Regions from separate parts of the Homo sapiens genome. Here region 1 is linked to region 2. The links come from fine-mapping of genetic effects on gene expression. A gene starts in region 2. The other region holds a variant in brackets. All regions are shown on one strand. Distances are between the middles of the regions.

What was found.
Region 1: its variant is fine-mapped to the expression of SMCR8 in whole blood (TOPMed, PIP above 0.99).

The regions. Positions count from the first base shown.
Region 1 is chr17:18,242,543-18,245,443 of GRCh38, reverse strand. LLGL1 (LLGL scribble cell polarity complex component 1) reads right to left here. Exons shown (of 23, transcript NM_004140.4): 21 at 2,816-2,901; 22 at 2,622-2,701; 23 at 569-1,536. The coding sequence ends at 2,623. It overlaps FLII (FLII actin remodeling protein), which reads left to right. Exons shown (of 30, transcript NM_002018.4): 29 at 25-90; 30 at 172-629. The coding sequence ends at 306. Among named protein-coding and RNA genes, the nearest start is that of FLII, 15 kb to the left of the region's middle. The variant C/T (reference allele first, on the strand shown) is at 1,382.
Region 2 is chr17:18,313,964-18,316,808 of GRCh38, reverse strand. It overlaps SMCR8 (SMCR8-C9orf72 complex subunit), which reads right to left and starts at 1,516. Exons shown (of 2, transcript NM_144775.3): 1 at 1-1,516. The coding sequence starts at 1,019. It overlaps TOP3A (DNA topoisomerase III alpha), which reads left to right and starts at 1,815. Exons shown (of 19, transcript NM_004618.5): 1 at 1,815-2,210. The coding sequence starts at 2,031. RefSeq lists enhancers at 1,456-1,505, 1,195-1,718, 1,846-2,195, 2,206-2,295, 2,243-2,766 and a silencer at 1,646-1,695.

The DNA.
Region 1 (2,901 bases), 71 kb after region 2:
GTATCTCCCCTGCTGCCCCCACAGGTCTACATGTGGGTGGGGACCCAGACTAGCCAGGTGGAGATCAAGCTGAGCCTGAAGGCCTGCCAGGTAATCTGGGTGGAGGGAGGGCCGAGGTGGGCCTGTGGGCAGGGCAGGGTCATCACCCAAGGCTCGCTGTCCCCTTGCCAGGTATATATCCAGCACATGCGGTCCAAGGAACATGAGCGGCCGCGCCGGCTGCGCCTGGTCCGCAAGGGCAATGAGCAGCACGCCTTTACCCGCTGCTTCCACGCCTGGAGCGCCTTCTGCAAGGCCCTGGCCTAAGACAGGCTGGCACAGCCCCAGGCTTGGTGAGGAAGAGGAAGGGGCCTCATCCACTGTCTGCTAGCAAAGAATGTACTCAGGTGACACCACCTGCTCCAGCCACGTCCAGTGCCACAGTCCCCAGTAGCCTCAAGCAGCACCAATGGGGATGACCCTGACAGGTGCCCTCAGGGGTCTGGGAAATCCAACTCTCTCCACAGTGTGAGTGCACGTGTGAAGCCCCCTCACTCTTCCGCTAGGGATAAAGCAGATGTGGATGCCCTTTAAGAGATATTAAATGCTTTTATTTTCAATATTAAAAATCAGTATTTTTAATATTAAAATGGCGCTAATTTTAACAAAACGACAGAAAAAAACCCCAAGGTACAATCTACAGGGAAACTCATCTTGACCCCCCCCCCTGCCCCCCCCCCCCGCCGGACACACACACCTGACTAGGCCCCAGATGTGGGTGCCCAGCAGAGCTCCCAGTCACATCCATGCCCGCACACACACACTCATGACAGGCTGGGGACTGGCCCAGAAGCAGGTACCAAAATAGTTTAGTTTTAGAAACAACTGTCCAGCCCAGGCGCTAGAAAAATACTCTTTGCAGGGCTGGGCATGGTGGCTCACGCCTGTAATCCCAGCACTTTGGGAGGCTGAGGTGGGTGGATCACGAGGTCAGGAGATCGAGACCATCCTGGCTAACATGGTGAAACCCCATCTCTACTAAAAATACAGAAAAAATTAGCTGGGCGTGGTGGTGGGCGCCTGTAGTCCCAGCTACTTGGGAGGCTGAGGCAGAAGAATGGCGGGAACCCAGAAGGCGGGGCTTGCAGTGAGCAGAGATGGGGCCACTGCACTCCAGCCTGGGCGACAGAGCAAGACTCCGTCTTTAAGAAAAAAAAAAAAAAGGAAAAATACTCTGCAAAGTGAGGGGGAAGGATGGTGTGTGGAGGGGGGGAGGTGGCACAGGTGCTGGGCCCCACCTGTCCTCTTCCCTAGGCAGTGGGCCCCCAGGGCAGCCAAATGCCTGCAGGAGGGCTCAGTTCTGGCCCAGGTCCCAGGCCCACACCCTGGGGCTGGTGCTGCT[C/T]CAGGGCCCAGGGTCAGGCGGGACAGGACAGCAGGTCCCAGTGGAGCCTACAGGTTAGCAGGCGTGGTTCTATGTTAAGGGGCCAGGCAGGTGCCAGGGATCCAGCACTCCAGCTCCGAGCAGGGCAGGTGGAGGTCGGGATAGTTCTGGCCTTCCTGGAAGAGGGAGAGAAGAGGTATCAGCAGAAGGTGAGGGAGGGCAAAAGGGCAGATGGATTGCCACAGCGGCCAGACCACACAGGTGCTGCCACTGTCTCCTCTGCAGGGCAGGCATGGCCCTTCAGTGACCACCTGAGATGGGCTTGCTGAGTCTCCAGATGGGTATCCAAGCGCCAGGCCACATATGCCCCACTGAGGCCAGGGAGAGGCACCAGACAAAGAGCTGGGAGGTGTCCATGTCCTGTGCAGGGTGAGGCTATGGCCTACAGTCAGGTGCCTGGGAACATGAGGCAGCAAATGCGCTGGGCAGATCTATGGGCCCCACATCTAGGTGAGGATCCACAGACTCAGGCAGGGGTAAGTCAGCCACTTGCTGGGCCCAACCGATGAGACCTGACCTCGTGCACCTCAGTGATCTCATCTATGAAACAGGCTGGCCAAACCAGCTCCCAAGCCCCAAACTACTGCCACCTCTAAGTGGTTTAATCTGGTCTTGTTGGCCGGGTGCGGTGGCTCACGCCTGTAATCCCAGGACTTAGGGAGGCCGAGGCGGGTGGATCATGAGGTCAGGAGATCGAGACCATCCTGGCTAACACAGTGAAACCCCGTCTCTACTAAAAACACAAAAAATTAGCTGGGTGTGGTGGCGGGCGCCTGTAGTCCCAGCTGCTCAGGAGGCTGAGGCAGGAGAATGGCATGAACCCAGGAGGCAGAGGTTGCAGTGAGCCAAGATCACGCCACTGCACTCCAGCCTGGGCGACAGAGCAAGACTCCGTCTCAAAAACAAAACAAAACAAAACAAAACAAAACAAATCTGGTCTTGTCCTAACCACCACCTGTCACATGCAAGGGCTGAGGGGCTGGCCCTGCTTTTCTAATACCCAACCATGACACTGGTGTCTGTGTGAGCACCAGAAGTCCCCAATTGAGGCACTCCATGGAAGGCAGCCAGGTTTCAGAGAGTGCCATCACATGGGCCTGCCAGGGTCTCAGGTAGAAGACCAGGGCCAAATGGTACCCAGACGGGCTGAAGGGGGTGGACGTCACCAGTGGTGAGGACCAGGGCCCCACCCCTGCAGCACCTCATTTGATCAGGATGGCACAGGCGTGGGCCTCGTCTTCTGCCAGGTTCCTCAGGTTCTTCTCTGACTCCTCAGAGGAGCTGCGAGATGGGGATGGTGCTCAGGGGTGGGGGCGGGGGAGCCCCTGGCAGCCCTGGGGACGGAGGCCTAGGGGACAGGGCAGCCCCCCCTGTGGACCTGCCCACCAGCCTCACCCCAGGAAATCCTTCACATCTTCCACTGTGACGTCCCCTGTCGTGTCCAGCGTGGTGTCAGCACTGGTGGCTGAGTCGATGGACAT
Region 2 (2,845 bases):
TGGCTGAGCTGAGCCAGGGTCTGGGTGAAATATTCAGTGTCACAGAGCTCCTCCAAGGTCTTCAACTTCTTGTCAAAACACTTGGTGGACTTTGCTTTGATAAGTTTTGGGGTGTAGGCTGGTCTGCAGGTGTAAAGGTCTGTGTCGGCAGACTCATCAGGGTTAGAGGTAGTGGATGCCTGGCTGGCCTGATCCTGGATGTGCTCCATCTCACCAGGACACAAATCATGCCCCTTCAACTTCCGATGAGGGTATGAGCGGATCTGCTTCAGCAGGTCTTGATGTTCAATGATGGACTTCTCCACACTGGCCAGTTCATTGGCTTTCTCAATTGCCTGAGATGAGTAAAAGCCTTTGTCGTTGGCTTTCTTCTGGATCTCCGTTTCTGTGTGTAGCACTGTCCTGGTGTAATCCAAGTCTTTCAGCTTTTTTTCAAGTTCCCCAGCAAATGCCTTCCTGTTGCCAGTCTTCAAGCACTCAGAAGCTCTGGAAAATTCGGCTGAAAGCTCCTGGAACTGCTGCATGATTTTATGCTGGTCTGCAGAGATATAAGCCATGCAAAACGGCCTCACGAAGCCACGGGCCTCCAGGTCGTATAGGGTAAGGTGGTGCACGTATGCAAAGGCGCCCTCCTTAGAATCTCCCAGCACCACCTTGGAGTCCTCCACGAAGTTCAGCTTGGGGTAGGCAGATCCAGGAGGATGGCCCACGAAGGAAGCCTGGTAATCCACAGACATGATACGCAGGGAGAAGTAATTGAGATCAAAAGTGCCAAAAACTTTGGTGTCATTGGGGATGGTCAGTAAGGGTTGGGGTCCCACCTGCTCAGAGAACTCGGAAATAAGAATGAAGTCCCTCGAAAACTTGGCCCCGGACAGTTTTGACCAGGGGTTAGCACCCTGACTGGCGAAGGGGAAGAGCGGCACCGAGTACTCCTCAGGCAGGGCCGGCTCATTGTAAGGCTCTTCTTCATACTCTTCCTCTTTGGTGAAGGCCACTACGTCAGGGGCGCTGATCATATTTCCAGATATATGAAGAAAACATTGAGAGGAAGTGGGAAAGAATGCGGTGTTAATCGACGCGCAGAAGGCAGGCCTCCGGAGAAGGAAGTGAAGCCCTTACGGCCTTCTTTGCGACTCCCCGAACCCGGGGTCCTAGGCTGCTTCTCACACACCCGAGGAGAAGAACTCTAGCAGCCCCCTCACAGTTGTAGCTCCTCCGGAGCTCTCTGAGGCCTCATGAACGCCAAGGCCGCAGGCCCAACTGCCCTTCTCTTCTTCGTCCGGCGAGCGCGGCCAGCACAAGAAACCTGCTGCGAAATCACCTGCACTCTCCGGAACCCACTGCGACAGCAAAAGCCCCCGCTCTGAACAAGGCTTAACGCGAGGCTACGGGACGCCGCAGGGGTCAGCCAAGCGCTGCTGCCCCTCACTGCCCGAGGGCAGAAACCGTCGCGGCTCCTAGGACGCCACAACCCGGATCCTGCTACCGCGGCGCCGCCATCTTGACATCACATGACTCCTGGTGTCCGCGCCGCGTGACCCGGAAGCGTCCTCGTAGACTTCCGAGCAGGAGATTAAAAAGTCATGAGAAAGAGGCCTTGGATGGGAGTGTCTGGCGGCTCCCCGCAAGAAGGAGTCCGATTAACCAACCACTGCCGGGAAGGAGGGGAAAGAGGGGCGGAGTGAGACGGGGGCGGCGGGAAGGTGGCAGAGGGGAACGTGCTTGGACGAGGGGCGCGGGACAGTCTGGGAGTTGTAGTTCCAGGTCGCTGTGGGGCGCGCGCCTGGCGGAAGTAGCTGGAGAAGGCGGGCGGAAGTTCCACGCCAAGATACTGGATTCGGTGCTGAGGCGGCGGCTGCGGCACGGGAAAGGCTCAGTGACTGAAGCTCCAAAGGCCAGCAGGCTGGTGGGGACGTGACCGAAGCGAGGCTCTGGTTCCCTTTCGGTGGGCGCCATTTGAGCCTCATCTCTGGCTTCCCCAGGATGCGCCGGCAGCCGGGGAGCGGCTCCGGGCGCGAGGTCTGAGGATGATCTTTCCTGTCGCCCGCTACGCGCTCCGGTGGCTGCGACGGCCCGAAGACCGTGCCTTTTCCCGCGCCGCCATGGAGATGGCCCTCCGAGGCGTGCGGAAAGTCCTCTGTGTGGCCGAAAAAAACGACGCGGCCAAGGGGATCGCCGACCTGCTGTCAAACGGTCGCATGAGGCGGGTAAGAAAGCGCGTTCCGATCAGCTGCGTGCCTTAAGGGAGGCCCACCGAGCGGGACAGCGTGGTGGGCGCCAAGAATCGAGATGAAGGCGATTATCTCCCATTTCTCAGGCCTCACTGCCCCTCGTCTGGATTATTGCAGTGGCCTCCTGTCTGCTCTCGGACTGGAGTGCATTTTAAAACGTAGTTGATACATCTCACTCATTTGCGTGGAAACCTTTTGTTTTGCTTGCGCTTAGCAGGTTCCCAAACTTGTCTGATTCTCGGAATCGCCTCGGGCGCTGGCTGCCCTTCGGGTCTTGTGTGAGGCTGGGGAAGTGTGTATTTTACTGTTTTTCCCTAGAGATTCAGAAATTCATTTGGGAACTACTGACCAGATTCCCTTAACTTGGCATTCAAGCCCTGCCCGATCGTTCCCCAGCCAACCTAGCCCTCCCCATCCTGTGCCACAGCCACTGCATTCTACAGCCCTTGTGACTTTCCAGCCTCACAGTGCACACTTACAGCAACACGGTAAGGTTTGGGGATTAGATTTGAAGTCAGCCCTGTTCCTACCCGAATGAACTGATTCTGAGAGAGGTAAGTGGTAAGAATGTGTTCTACACACACGGGAGGCACAAACGCAAGGGAGGATAA